Linked DNA regions of Homo sapiens: all the other regions are reported to be linked to region 1. The links are microRNA targets in miRTarBase. Many come from high-throughput screens and were not tested one by one. Region 1 holds a microRNA gene; each other region holds the end of a gene's coding sequence.
What was found. Region 1 holds the annotated microRNA hsa-miR-519d-3p (CAAAGUGCCUCCCUUUAGAGUG, at 3,444-3,465, opposite strand). A microRNA usually pairs through its seed, bases 2 to 8, with sites in the 3' UTR of a target mRNA and lowers its output. Matches are read on the target gene's strand: a 7mer-m8 pairs with bases 2 to 8, a 7mer-A1 pairs with bases 2 to 7 and ends in A, and an 8mer does both.

Region 1 (5,076 bases):
TCCCAAAAAAGAGGACCATTTGAGCCCAAGAGACCTAGGTTGGAAGTGCCACCATACTCCAGCCTGGGCAACAGAGATCCTGTCTTAGAAAAAAAAAAACAGACGCCCACCATTGTCAAAGTCTGATTATAAGCAGGCTCTGCAAAGTTATTTGCAAGATCAGCATCAACTTCAGCATTGCTTTTCTCACACGGTAACACTCTAAAGGGAAGTGCGTTCTTTTCTTTTAGACAAGAGAAAATTCTTCCCTTTGGAGAGTCACAGCCCGAGACCTTCTTACTCCAGCACTCTGGGTTTTTTGTTGACATTTTTGTTGACCAGGCTAAACTGGACACAAAATAAAGATGCACGTATTGGCCCTGTTTACACGTTTTCTGGAATCCAAAACATAAACCCCTAAAAGGACCATCTCCAGTTCCTTGCTTCAAACAATCAGCAGGTTAGCCTTGTTTATCATAGGACAATCTTCCTGAGTTTCGTATCTGCTAAGAAAAAACAATGCCTACTACACGTAGCTTATATTTAAGCAGGAGAATTGGTAAGATTTCTGGAGAAGAGCAATGGATTATGAGCCAAGGGTGCACTTGAGTTCCAGGACAGGTACACACAGTCCCGATGGGAGCACCCAAAATCGAGTCTACGATGTTGAAGAATATACATTGTCACATACACAAATATTCTCCAGGATAGACCATAGGCTTGGTCATAAAAACTCAATAAAATCTGAACAGAAATACGTAAGTATGGGTGGGGTGGGTTGGCTCACACCTCTAATCCTAGCACATTAGGGGGCCAAGACGGGAGGATCACCTGAGCTCAGGAGTTCCTGAGACCAGCCCCAGCAACATGGTGTAAACCCATGTGTATGAAAAACACAAAAGTGAGCCAGGTGTGGTGGTGCATGCCTGTAGACACTAATTCAGCAGGTTTAGGTGGGAGGTGGAGGTTGCAGTGAGCCAAGATCGCACCACTACACTCCAGCCTGGGTGATAGAGCCAGACCTTGTCTCAAAAATAACCAACTGGCCGGGCGCGGTGGCTGACGCCTGTAATCCCAGCACTTTGGGAGGCCGAGGCGGGTGGATCACGAGGTCAGGAGATCGAGATCATCCTGGCTAACATGGCGAAACCCTGTCTCTACTAAAAATACAAAAAAAAATTAGCCAGGTGTGGTGGTGGGTGCCTGTGGTCCCAGCTACTCAGGAGGCTGAGGCAGGAGAATGGCGTGAACCCGGTAGGCGGAGCTTGCAGTGACCCGAGATCCTGTCACTGCACTCCAGCCTCGGCGACAGAGTGAGACTCTGTCTCAAAACAAAAACAAAAACAAAAAACAAAAAACAAAAAACAAAAACAAAAAAAAACCAGCCAAACAAATAAAAAACATACACACACAAAGAAAGAAAAAAATACCCAAGGTTATATCAGAGTATTCTCTGTATTTAGAACAGTATTTTGTGTGTATATGATTATATTATATATAAGTATATATATAACGAAATATATACCATATATTTCTGAGACCCTGTGTCAAAGAAAGTTCCATATATTGTATGCTCACAGGAAGAAAAATTCCTACACAAGTGCTTGCTTTGGCAGTTCACATAAAAAAAAATTGGAATGACAGAGATTACGCTGGCTGCTACACAAAGGTGACACCCAAATTTATGATGTCCCATATTTATCTATTTATTTTTATTTATTTTATTTATTCATTTATTTTTGAGACGGAATGTTGCTCTCTGGCCCAGGCTGGAATGCCATGGCTTGATTTCAGCTCACTGAAATCTCCTCCTCCTGGGTTCAAGGGATTCTCCTGCCTCAGCCTCCGGAGTAGCTGGAATTACAGATGTGCACCATTGCACCCAGCTAATTTTTGTATTTTTAGTAGAGACGAGGCTTTGCCATGTTGGCCCTGTTGGTCTTGAACTCCTGACCTCAGGTGATCCTCCCGTCTCGGCCTCCCAAAGTGCTGGGATTACAGGCATGCGCCACCGCGCCCGGCCTATTTTTTACTTTCTTGAGACTGAGTCTCACTCTGTTGCCCAGGGTGGAGTGCAGCAGAAGATTTCAGCTCACTGAAAGCTCAGCCTCCTGGCTTCATGTTGGCCAGGCTGGTCTCGAACAACTGATCTCAGGTGATCCTCCTGTCTCAGCCTCACAAAGTGCAGGAATTACAGACAAGAGCCACCATATGCACACTAGTCCCATATTTAAAATTAGGAAAAAAAAAAACAAAACAAAGATGCCCACACCTGAACAGCAAATCGTTTGTTGTTCAAGTACATCTCAAATACATTGTTTATCTAAAATACAAGTTTAACTGGGGTCAGGTATGAACCAAAGAACAGTCCTTACTTTCTTCTTGTCTGTGCATGGGGGGTTAATATTCACATGTGGTCCCATCTACCAAGGACTGGGGAGGGGCAGAGGCAGGAGGATCTAAGCCCACTTCAGCCAGGGCAGCATAGTGAGACCGCCGTCTCATGCATTTATCTCCTGGTCATGCACCCAGATTTCAGCTTCATTTCCCCAATAAACACTGAAGCCCCATGCACTCCACCTCCGTGCTCTTGCTCATCCCATCTGCAGGGACACTGAGGTCCCCTCAACTCCACCTGACCCCACGTGAGGTTCTATACCAGTGCCAGAAAAATTTCCATAAAGTAAAAGGTGCTGATGGCTGTGCCCGGTGGCTCACGCCTGTATTCTCAGCACTTTGGGAGGCCGAGGCCAGCGGCTCACTTGAGGTCAGGGGTTTGAGACTAGCCTGGCCAACATGGTGAAACCCCACCTTTACTAAAAAAAAAAAAAAAAAAAAAAAATCAAAATCAAAAAGTAGCTGGTTGTAGTGGTGGGTGCCTGTAATTCCACCTACTCAGGAGACTGAGGCAGGAGAATGGCTTGAACCTGAGAGGCAGAGGTTGGAGTCAGCCGGGATCATGCCACTGCCCTCCAGGCTGGGTGACAGCAACACTCCATCTCAAAAATGAATGAATGAATAAAAAAGAAAAATACAAATATTAGCCGAGTGTGATGTCAGGCATCTGTAATCCCAGCTACCCAGGAAGCTGAGGCAGGAGAATCACTCGAACCCGGGAGGTGGAGGTTGCATTGAGCCAAGATCGCGCCACTGCACTCCAGTCTGGGTCACAGAGCAAGACTGTATCCCATAAAAGGACCATCTGAGCCCAACAGGCCTATCTTAAAAAGTGCTTCTCTAGTCTCTCCTGGGCAACAGAGACCTTGTCTTAGAAAAAAAAAAAAACACAAAACAAAACACACACACCAAAACAAAAAACAAAAACCTAACAAACAAAAAAACCAACCAAACAAACAAACAAAAAAACAGACTCCCAACATCATCCAAGTCTGATTACAAGCATGGTCTGCAAATGTATTACCAAGATCAGCATCATCTTCAACGTGGCTTTTCCCAAACGGTAACACTCTAAAGGGAGGCACTTTGTTTAAGAGAAAACAAACAGAAAGCGCTTCCCTTTGGAGGGTCACAGCATGGGATCTTCTTGCTCCAGCACTCTGGGTTTTTTGTTGAAATCTTCCTTGACCAGGTTAAAATGGCCACAACAATAAAGATGCATTTATTGGCCCTGTTTGCCTGTTTTCTAGAATCCAGAACATAAACCCCTAAAAGGACCATCTCCAGTTCCTTTCTTCAAAGGCTCTGCAGGTTAGCCTTGTTCATCAAGGGGCAACCCTCCTGAGTTTTGCCTCTAAAGAGAAAAAGCAATGCCTACTACACATACCTTATATTTAACCAAGAGAACTGGGCTGGATTTCTAGAGAACAGCAATGGACTTTGAGCTGAGTGTTCACTTGAGTTCCAGCACAGGGATACATAGTTCCGATGGGAGCATCCAAAATGGAGTCTAAGATGTTGAAGAATATACATTGTCACACACACAAACATCCTCCAGGATAGACCACAGGCTAGTGGATCACCTGAAAGCGGGAGTTCAAGACTAGCCTGGCCAACATGGTGAAACCCGTCTCTACTAAAAACATAAAAATTAGCTGGGTGGGGCAGTAGGTGCCTGTAATCCCAACTACCTGGGAGGCTGAGGCAGAAGCATCACTCGAACCCAGGAGGCGGAGGTTGCAGTGAGCCTAGATCATGCCAGTGCTCTCCAGGATGGGCAGCAAGAGTGCAGGACACGATGGTGGGTGCCTGATGCCTGAATTCCCAACAATTCGGCAGGCTGAGGTGGGAGAATCACTGGAACCCGAGAGGTGGAGTTTCCGGTGAGCAGAGATCCTGCTACTGCACTCCCAACGAAACAAGAGTGTGTCTCAAAAAATCAAAAAATAAAAAGAGGACCACTTAAGCCCAAGAAATCTTGGTGGAAGGTGCTATCCACCCACGCCTGGGCAATAGAAAGCCTGTCTTGGAAAAATTTCAAATCACAAACAGAACCCCGACATCATGCAAGTCTGATGATAAGCACGCTCTGCAAATGTATTACCAAGATCAGCAGCATCTTCAACGTTGCTTGTCTCAAACAGTAACACTCTAAAGGGATGCACGATCTTTTCTTTTATACAACAGACAGTGCTTCCATCTAGAGGGTCACTGCCTGAGATCTTCTTTTTTTTGACACGGAGTCTCACTCTGCCGCCCAGGCTGGATGCGGTGGTGGGATCTCGGCTCATGGCAACTTCTGCCTCCTGGGTTCAAGCGATTCTTCTGCGTCAGCCTCCTGAGTAGCTGGGATTAGAGGCACCCACCACCATGCATATTGCATATATGACTGCATATATGACCTGGTCATGCACCCAAGATGTTGGTTTCATTTCCCCAGTGAAAACTCAAACCCCATGCACTCCACCTCCGTGCTCTTGCTGAGCACATCCCATCTGCAAGGGACACTGAGGTCCCCCTTTGACTCTACCTGACCCCACATGAGGCTTTATAAATCAGTGCCAGAATAATTTCCATGGACTAAAAGGTGTTAATGGCCATGTGTGGTGGCTCACGCCTGTAATCTTAGCACTTTGGGAGGCTGAGGTGGGCAGATCACCTGAGGTCAGGAGTTCGCAACCAGCCTGGCCAACATGGTGA
Region 2 (5,076 bases), not on the chromosome of region 1:
TGCTTGATCTTTCTTCAAGTTTAAAATAATGCTAAAGAATTAAATCTTCTTTGTAGTGTTGTTATAATCTTAGTGGATAGAGGACCATGTTGGTATATATATTTCATTACTATTCTAATTTTTTCCCCACTAGAAGTCAATTTTTAAAATCTTTTCATCCAGCAGATATGTAATGTACAAAAGGGATAAAAATAATTTTGATGTGCTTATGTTTCCATATTTGTTCTCAAGTGTCATCCTTCTGATACACATCATGTGGCAACATATATGTTGACACCAATTTCTCTGAACTCTTTATCAAAAAAAATTTGCCAGCACTAACTGTAAAATGAAACATTAGTATGGTCTGAGAGGGAAGAAAATTCTGTTGTTTCTTAGAGTTTCTCCTATAGTCTATGATTTTTCTAAAATTTGAGAAGCAAATTTAATACATTGAGAATTTTGTAGGTATACAGCTCTACAATCTCTTACCTAAAACCCTGAGGCTAGATGTTTCAGAATAGAGGACTTCACATTTAAGAAAGGCAATATGGGCTGGGTGCAGTGGCTCATGCCTGTAGTCCCAGCATTTTGGGAGGCCAAGGTGGGCAGATCACCAGGTCAGGAGTTCAAGACCAGCCTGGCCGATGCGGTGAAACCCTGTCTCTACTAAAAATATAAAAATTAGCCAGGCGTGGTGGTGCACGCCTATAGTCCCAGCTACTCGGGAGGCTGAGGCAGAAGAATCGCTTGAACCTGGGAGGCAAAAGTTGCAGCGAGCTGAGATCGCACCACTCCAGCCTGGATGACAGAGTGAGACATCGTCTCTAAAAAAAAAAAAAAGAAAAGAAAAAAGAAAGACAATATGGTTCATATACCACATAGAGCTTGTATGCCTCCAGGGAAATCTGCAGCAGCACCCCACAACCAAATAAAGTACTTTTGCTACAGCCAAATTATCTACACCAAATAGAATAAAAGACCATGAATAGCCTCATGTCAATTCAGTTCAGATTTTGCTGCCAAATGTCTTTGTTTCAAAGTTTTGCAAAATCTTTTGGTTTTCAGAGCCTTCTGAATTTTTGAATTTTGAATAAGGAACTATGTGTCTGCGGTTTGTAAAAACAAAACAGAAAACTCTTTCTGAAGACTTTTTCACCTCAAAGAGACCCACAGTTGACTGTTTGAATGATACACACTTATAACTGAAGATACTTTCCAGCATGAATTCAAGAATAAGCCTCAATTTTCCCACTAGCGGCACAGTTACCAAGAGAAATGTGCTCCCTCCGCTCCAGTGAGTCTCGATTTCTTCTTAGAGCTGACACACATGGCACAGAACCCACTTTCATCAGTACTCATGGTCATTCTGGCAGTGATTCTCAACCACAAGGGCTTGTCCCCAGAGGACAAATGACCCTGTTATGAGCAATCTTCTATCCTCTAAGAATCTTTGGTTTTTCTCCCCAATAAAAAGATGATTCTTCCAGCTCTGGCAATAATTGCAACTTAATATTAACTAACATTGAGATCTGTAGAGCCCTTTAAGAATTTGATCATTTTAAGTCCAGAGCATTAATTTTTAGTCCTGGCTGTACATTAGAAACACACACAGAACTTCGTTAAAAACAGATATCCAGGCAGCACCAGATCAACATACTTAGAAACTCAAAGCACCAAAAAGATGATAGTGTCCTCCTTCATGCATAATTCAAAATAAAAACAATACTAAATCATAAAACACATGGAAGTAAGTCCACCCTGGATGGCATTTTTCTTACGAAGCTTGGGTACAGTCTTCTTCCTTTTTTTTTTTTTTCCTTTTTTAATGCCCCTGCTTTGCTACAGCCCTCAGCATGAACTTATTCTTCCTACCAGATAATCCAGCACTGGGTGAGCCTTCCAAACTGGTAGTCTGAGCCCCATGTGGAAGAGGGAGGAGAAGAGAAAGACAGCGGTATGGTAGAACATCCCAGACTGCCATGCAGTCTAAGAAAGGTTCTGCAAGGCCACTGAAGAGTCTTCAAGCCAAAGTCGGCTGTCAGAGGAGTTCTGTGTCTCCTAGAATTTCCAGACTAAGTATGTCTTAGTATAACTTCATACTCAGCCAGTCGCTGAGAGAAACCACGGAAGGCATGGGCTCAATGCAAATACAGCAATGGATTTCAAAGTGCAGCTGGGCCCCTAGGTCAACCGCATTCTCTGTAATCCCCCAGTATTGGAGGTCTCTGCCACAGATCTCTAGTGTGATAAAGGGGCTCAGTACCCCTGAGAAAAAGCTTTTCTGACTAGTATCTTGTAAAGTCCTCCATAACTATCAATATAACTTCTCACTATTTTGGGATTGGAAGAGGAAAAGGGAAAGACAAAAAGTAAAGCAAATGTTACTTGAATAACACAAACCCACAAAGTTTTCACACCTGTAAACAATGTGCCAAATGTTTTATTTCTCTCATATGCAAGTAATTACCTCTCAAAGCATTTTTAAAAAACGCATTATTACACTTTACCAATGAATTATTTCTGTCCCTGGAGATTAAATCAAATCAAAATGTTACAAATAGTATCAGTATGATATAATTTCTTAAATATATGGGACATTGTCAACAGCTGTGATTCATATGAAAAATATAATCAGATATCTCAAATTCCTAATTCTGTTTTAAAAACACAAAACACTAGAACAGTTGCTATGAAATTACTGATAATGATCCCTTTAATAAACTGCAATTAACCACTAATATAGAAATTCAATTTAAGCAAGAAGTTTTATATATTATACTTTACAGAAAAAAATAATTTTGAAAAAGTAATGACAAACAGAGATCAAACATTTAGGGCATTAGTTACTGCATTCTCTTTTTAGAATATACATTAAGTAACACTAGTAAAATTTAAAGTTTTATGACCAGGCCTTAAAAAACATGAATGATGATGACAGAACCACTATCACACATAAACAAAAATAGAGCAAACCAAGCGTGTCCACATCTCCATGAATTCAGTGATTTGAAATAAATGTTGTTATGTTAAACATTATGAGCAAATCTAAAGGTTCAACCAAAAAACTTACATATTTTTGAGTATTTTTTAAAGTTTTAATAGTTTATCTCTGATCAAGGATGGAGAAAGGACAAAAAAAAATACTGTCCTGAATTGATTCTCACAGGGCCTGCTCCCTCACAGAACACAGTGTCATTATATATGCCTTATTTATATATAAAACAACCAAAGAATTTTCATTCTTCTTAGTAAGTATTTAAAATACATTCTAGGCGTGCATTAGGAGTAAATGTTAATTTGTGATGCCCTTAAAAGACTTTCAACCTGTAAGAAACAATTTCTGGGAATATAAAAATATTGAATTTTACATATTTCAGAGTCTTGAGAAACTTAAAGTGCAGTATTTTCATGTATCAGCAAATAATAATTGTGTCATATAAGCTCATCTTGAAAGAGGATGTAAATACTTCCAAATTTTTATGAATGCTACATTACAGAGGGCAGAGTGTAGCTATTTTAAGGTTTGATTGTCCAGATTTTTTTATTAGACTGCAAGGAGGAAAAATAAGCACCAAAGTAAAATATGCTTTATTAGGGGGAAAAACAGTGTTTTCATGAAAAGAAAATAGAAAACATGTCATTTCTCCCTTTAGTGACCTTTCTTCATTCAATTACCTGGTTTACCAAGAATGTTAACTCAGTTCAATTATTGAACAAATCACTCTTAAACAAAATGTCAGGATCCAACATTTGTTCATGGGTTAAAGCCTTTTGGCGGGCCGTGGTGGCTCATGCCTGTAATCCCAGCACTTTGGGAGGCTGAGGCATGCGGATCACAAGGTCAGGAGTTCGAGACTAGACTGACCAACATGGTGAAACTCATCTCTACTAAAAATACAAAAAAAAAAAAAATTACCCAGGCGTGGTGGCACACACCTGTAATCCCAGCTACTCAGGAGGCTGAGGCAGTAGAACAGCTTGAACCCGAGAGGCAGAGATTGCAGTGAGCCAAGATCGCACCACTGCATTCCAGCCTGGGCGACAGAGCAAGACTCGGTCTCAAAAAAAAAAAAAACCCCAAAAAAACAAAAATAAAAAAACCTTTCAAAGAACACTAGTCATTCTAAGCTCATTTCTTATTCTTCAGTAAGGCTTTAATTAAATATAAGCCTATTGACCTTTGCTTCACAATTTTAATATTAATGAAAATTTCATTCTGAGTTTGAAGTGACGTTTCTTCAAGGGTCTGACCCATTTGGGTGGTGGCGTAGAAGTGGACTGCTAGCATATACATGGTTACAAAATTAGAGTAAAAACTAAAAGGTGAAAAAACTAGAAAACCCAATACTAGCTATTCCAGAAAACTAAAACTAAAGGATTGCTTGAAAAATTGTCTTTAGCAAGATAAAGCAGAGTGACTTATAGACAAGACCAGTGATTGTTTTTTCTCCCTGTTGGAGCCCCTGAGGTCTGTGATTAAGATGGCAATTGGGGTCTGAGAAGTCTCACTGATGACTGCTTCATCAATTTTTGCTGCTGTCTCGTTGACTGTGCATCCTCAATGGCATTACATGCTCTCTGTAAAGTAAAATACTTATTATGAATTTTAAAGACAAGTATAGGCTCATTTGGTTGAAGGGAAAGGTATGAAAGCAAGGGCTGAAGCTCTCCAAACAGGACCAACAGCTAAGGACCAAGGATACAGTCCAGATGTGTCATATAAAAATAAGACCCTTGCACCCGACTGAGTCCACAGCATATTAAGTTTATATATCCATCCATAGTTATATTTGGGAGAGCTTTGGGAGAAATAATGGTATTCATTATAAGAGGCTTTTAAAAAAGTATTTCAGCTAAAAAAAATTGAGGCATGCTCTTTAAATTGTTTACCTCTGCTGTGGCGGTGTCCTTCAGGTAAACTTTTCGAACACAGCCTTGATTGGCACTGTCTTTTTTGTGGAACAGACCCTGTTCCTGTTTCAAAAGAAACAATGACAGAAAAGAAATTATTCTGAGGAAGAAAAAAATTCCTAACTTTTAATTGTATACTTAAATGTCAACTCTATCTTATAACAAGTAGGCTAACCAAATACA
Region 3 (5,076 bases), not on the chromosome of region 1:
ACCAGTGGACTCTGCTCCAGTGATGGAAGAAGATACGAATGGGGAGAGCCACGTTCCCCAAGAAAATGAAGAAGAAGAGGAAAAAGAGCCCAGTCAGGCAGCTGCCATCCACCCCGACAACTGTGAAGAAAGTGAAGTCAGCGAGAGGGAGGCCCAACCTCCCTGTCCCGAGGCCCATGGGGAGGAGTTGGGGGGATTTCCAGAGGTAGGCAGCCCAGCCTCTCCGCCAGCCAGTGGAGGGCTCACCGAGGAGCCCCTGGGGCCCATGGAGGGGGAGCTCCCAGGAGAGGCCTGCACACTCACTGCCCATGAAGGAAGAGGGGGCAAGTGTACCGAGGAAGGGGATGCCTCACAGCAAGAGGGCTGCACCTTAGGTTCTGACCCCATCTGCCTCAGTGAGAGCCAGGTTTCTGAGGAACAAGAAGAGATGGGAGGGCAAAGCAGCGCGGCCCAGGCCACGGCCAGTGTGAATGCAGAGGAGATCAAGGTAGCCCGTATTCATGAGTGTCAGTGGGTGGTGGAGGATGCTCCAAACCCGGATGTCCTGCTGTCACACAAAGATGACGTGAAGGAGGGAGAAGGTGGTCAGGAGAGTTTCCCAGAGCTGCCCTCAGAGGAGTGAAAGGGACAATTTGGCTGAAGTCTTTCTCTGAAAAAAGCCAAAGGGTTATAGGGGTACACTTAGGGGTTGCATGCAAGCTGTTACCAAAAAATTTTTAAGTATTTTCTTAATTTGAATAATAAAACCAGAGGAAATGCATACAGGGCATGAGCAACTGAGGCAAACCTTTGTGGACATGAATTGTTCTACGATGAATTTTTGCTTTAGTATTTTAATAAGAATTACAAAGACAATGGCATACTTGGGGTGAGAGGGAGCTGAGGATGTCTGAGGAGGGAATAGTATTGCAGGGAAGACTGAGAAAACAGTAGGATGACAGTTTTGAGTATACTCTGCACTTTTCAATTGTGCAATCTTCTTGTGCACTTTAAGGCTTTTTAATTTTGTTTGAGAATGCAAATGTATACTGTAAGTCTACCTTTACTATCTACTATGCCTACTTCACCATCTCTTAAGGACTCGGCATTTGTCCACAGTCAGACTGCAAGAGAGGGTAGGTCATGAACAGTCACCCGTGCTGGCTGTAGCCCCCACAGAGGCAATCATGCCCAATAGATTCAAGAGAAGCTAAGCGGAAATGGAGGGTGGAAGGTGTGATCTGTGGGACTGTCTGGGCCTGTTACTCATCCTGCTATCAATTTCTTATTAATTAATCTTGATGATTCTTATTAATTAATCACATTTGCAGGAAATTCAGATGAGGCAAGAAAATTTTATTGGCCTGGGTAAGACTGAAAGCATTCCAAATTAGGCTTAGACTGTGCAAAGGGCTTAGCTAAGTTATCGAGCTTAAAACCCGTCAATTAAACAAACATTATTTGAACAGTTACTGCATGCCACGCACTGTGTTGGGCTTAGTAATAAAAAAAAGAAAAGATAAGTGCTTGTTCTAGCATAAATTAAAAGGTCCAAGGGAATTTAATCTGGAAGAGAACATATGCCAATTTTTAAACTATGACAGCTTTTTTTTTTCTCTTTCCATTCAAATAGTCCTGGTTCATTCCCAGAAGGGCACAAAATGAATGAATAAATAAATAAATGAATAAAGACAAAAGCCAAGGTGTATGCTCTCAAGTTCCAAAGATGTTATCAAAAGCTGAAATCATTTGTTTGGTCATTCAGCAAGCTAATTGAGTCTCTGTTATATACCAAGCACTGGGGATACCATGGCGAAAAACAACTTTGTTCCTTCCTCCTAGAACTTACATTTTAATGGAAATAGACAAAACACATCTTCTTAACGGATGGTGACCTATAACCATTAATGTTGAAAATGGAAGAGACTTGCTTCCAAAAGATTAAAAGGAGTTGTTCTTTTCTCCTTCAGAAAAATACCAGATCATTTCCTAAAATCTCCAGTCCCAAGTATTACATCGTGGTTTCCCTCCCCGACTTTTTATTTTATTTTATTCTATTTTTTTGAGATGGAGTCTCACTCTGTCGCCAAGGCTGGAGTGCAGTGGTGTGATCTCGGCTCACTGCAACCTCCGCCTCCTGGGTTCAGGAGATTCTCCTCTGTCAGCGTCCCAAGTAGCTGGAATTACAGCCATGCGGCACCATTCCCGGCTAATTTTTGTATTTTTGGTAGAGATGGGTTTTCACCATGTTGGCCAGGCTGGTCTCAAACTCCTGATTTCAAGCGATCCACCCACCTCGACTTCCCAAAGTGCTGGGATTACAGCGTGAGCTACCTGGCCCCTCCCCAAATTTTAACATCAGATCTCAACATATTTGTTGAGAACTTGTTTAGATCATCACTATCGAGTAAATTTATGTCAGTTCTTTAGAGCATTTGCTTCACACACAGTTCAACCATTTAACCAGAAATTAAAATATCACCCTTTTCAGCCCTCCCATGAAGAATTTCTAGGTCATAAACATGAATAATACTCAGTATATGTATAATATCATATTTAATTGTTGCAACTTTTCTTGGCGTGTTTAAATCCTCATGTCTTTGAGGGATCCCACCACAGGTGAAGGAAGTAAAGACCACTTCTCCCCCAGTCTCTGCTTTCTGCAGTGCTCACTCATATCCTGGCATTTAGCATGGTGTGTTGAAATTAGGTTTACTTCTTGTCTCTCCAAGTGGCTCCTCTCTTAAAAGACAGAAACTAGGGTTTAGTCATCATTTGTGCTTCCTGCTAGAAACCCACAGCCTTGAATAATGGCTTCCTGCCTCCTTGAGTCACTTTAATATCCCTGGTGCATAGGACCTGGCATGCGTCAGGCTGCTCGGGAAATGTGGGAACTGGACACCCAGAACACTGCTGTGCTGGGGCTATTTGGGGCCTGCTGTCAGGCAGAAAGACGTTTTGAATTGGGCTTTCTGCCCTTGTTGAGTTTTCTCTTAAGTAAAGTCCAAAGTCCAAGGGGCAGATGGCCAGATGCACTGCCCAGTAAGGCAGGAAGCCAAAGAGGCAGTGCCCAGCCCCACAAAGGCTGCCCGACTCCCTGGGACAGTAGTGTGGAGTCCCAGCCCAGGCTGACCTCACACCGGAGCTTCCTAGCTTCCTTTCTTTGCTCAATGCAGGGCTTCTTGCACCCCCTGGAAAGCTAAGAGATTTTTTTCAACCCTAAAAGAGAGTACCTTTCACTGCATTGGATGGATGAACATCAGTGCCCTAACTTTATCCATCATGTAGGTCAGGGAGGACTGGGCACTATTTGGCAGGATGTACTCCAGAATATAATCAAAGAATTTTCTGTACATATTTCACTAAAGACAAGTTTTTGGGCTGGATGTGGTAGCTTACACCTATAATCCCAGCACTTTGGGAGGCTGAGGTGAGAGGGTCACTTGAGCCCAGGAGTTCTAGACAAGCCTGGGAAACATAGCAAGATCTCATCCTTACAAAAAATAATAATGGTGTGTGCCTGCAGTCCTAGCTACTTGGGTGGTTGAGGCAGGAGGATTGTTTGAGCGAGGGAAGTTGAGGCTGCAGTGAACTATGATTTTACCACTGCACTCCAGCTTGGGCAACAAAATGAGACCCTGTCTCAAAAAAAAAAAAAAAGTTTTCTAGAATAAGCAGGATGATTGTTTAATTTGAAGATGGAACAGGAAACTAGAGTGCATTTAAAATACTCTGTCTTCATTTTAACATGTTGAATGGAATAACTGCATATCACCATGAGTTTGTTTTGCTTTTCATACAGACTTGTATGTGTCATTTGAGTGGTTTCCAGATTGGAGCGAGGTTATTCTGATCTAAATGAACAGCATTTTTTTCCTTAGCCTCTGTTTGCCACTCTGGGTATCTCTCCTATGGGCAAAGCCATTAGAAATGCATAAAACCTCGAGACATGGTTTTTGGCAAAAACTCCATGACTTTAAACTAGCTCTTTTACTACTGACCTTTCACAGAGAAAAAATATTTCCCTTGAAAAAAACTGGGCTTGTCATTTTTTCCCTTGTAGCTTTAAGCAGAGACATAAGTGCCTTGCATTACACATAGTAAACTTTCTTTAAAAAAAAAAAAAAAAGATTTTGGAGACTACCAGGGTAAGATTCCAACTTGTCCAAAAGCTTTCTGGCCTTACATATTTTATTATAAAAATTCTCAAGTCTGGTAATCTTCTATGTCAGAGCTAGTGATTTCAAAAGGTTTCACAATTCCCCAAGACAAAAGTGATTTTCGTTCATTATAATAAGGTTAAGTGATATGTGATTCATAGCAATTTTGATGTGAAGAAGGGAAGGACATCATTGACTTAATAATAGTATCAGTCGGTGCAACAGTTGGCAACATGTGCCTTCACACTTTACCATAAAGAGACGGGTTTGAGGGTTTGCCTTCTAAAGTCTGCAACTTCAAGAAAAAAAATCGACACTGTGGATTGACTTTCCCGGTCACTATATAAAGCAAATAAACTTAAAACACTTTGTAACCATGTATTTACTCTGCCAGGTGCCTATATTCCAATAAAATGTTCATCCTTGAAGAGCTGACCAGATGTCATTTATTTGGAAGGAGGCTGGTTTCATCTTTTAAGCAGATGTCACATTTGAATTGTGAGGTACAGCCCTCTGAAACGAAAAGGCGAGTCATTCTTGCTGTATCATGGACCTTTTACTTTTCTGTTGTCACGAAGGAATCTGCAGGGAAACCACTTAATGTCAGGTGTAATTATGCTTTGATAATGCATATGCTTACGTCTCCAGGAATTGGATCACATTCATAATACAGCAGTGGGCAATTATTCTTGATGTAATTGAACTGCTGTTCAAACTTAAATTTATTTTCAATGGGTAACATTGAGCAAAACATTCATTCTTTCTGTAATTATATATACAACAGTATTTATTTGCCATGTCCACAGTTGCTCATTTATCCGTGGATTCATTCATCAAAAAAATAATGACTGGTCACCTCCTATAAGCAGGCACTCCAGTGGGTGGTGGAGAAACAAGTGAACACAGTAGACATGATCCCTGACATCAGCAAACGCAA

Region 2: miRTarBase lists VPS13C as a target of hsa-miR-519d-3p. Seed matches in the 3' UTR shown: 8mer at 3,374-3,381.
Region 3: the mRNA of NIBAN1 is a reported target of hsa-miR-519d-3p. Seed matches in the 3' UTR shown: 7mer-m8 at 957-963, 8mer at 985-992, 7mer-A1 at 2,812-2,818, 7mer-m8 at 3,392-3,398 and 7mer-A1 at 4,384-4,390.

Annotation. Positions count from the first base shown.
Region 1 is chr19:53,711,789-53,716,864 of GRCh38, reverse strand. It overlaps MIR519D (microRNA 519d), which reads right to left and starts at 3,518; the gene lies at 3,431-3,518. MIR517A (microRNA 517a) reads right to left here and starts at 4,597; the gene lies at 4,511-4,597. It overlaps MIR521-2 (microRNA 521-2), which reads right to left and starts at 271; the gene lies at 185-271.
Region 2 is chr15:61,849,999-61,855,074 of GRCh38, forward strand. It overlaps VPS13C (vacuolar protein sorting 13 homolog C), which reads right to left. Exons shown (of 85, transcript NM_020821.3): 84 at 4,873-4,956; 85 at 2,391-4,560. The coding sequence ends at 4,459. The region is part of intron 2 of LOC124903501 (a long non-coding RNA gene); the gene reads left to right. Among named protein-coding and RNA genes, the nearest start is that of LINC02349, 120 kb to the left of the region's middle.
Region 3 is chr1:184,790,523-184,795,598 of GRCh38, reverse strand. NIBAN1 (niban apoptosis regulator 1) reads left to right here. Exons shown (of 14, transcript NM_052966.4): 14 at 1-4,567. The coding sequence ends at 622. Among named protein-coding and RNA genes, the nearest start is that of EDEM3, 38 kb to the right of the region's middle.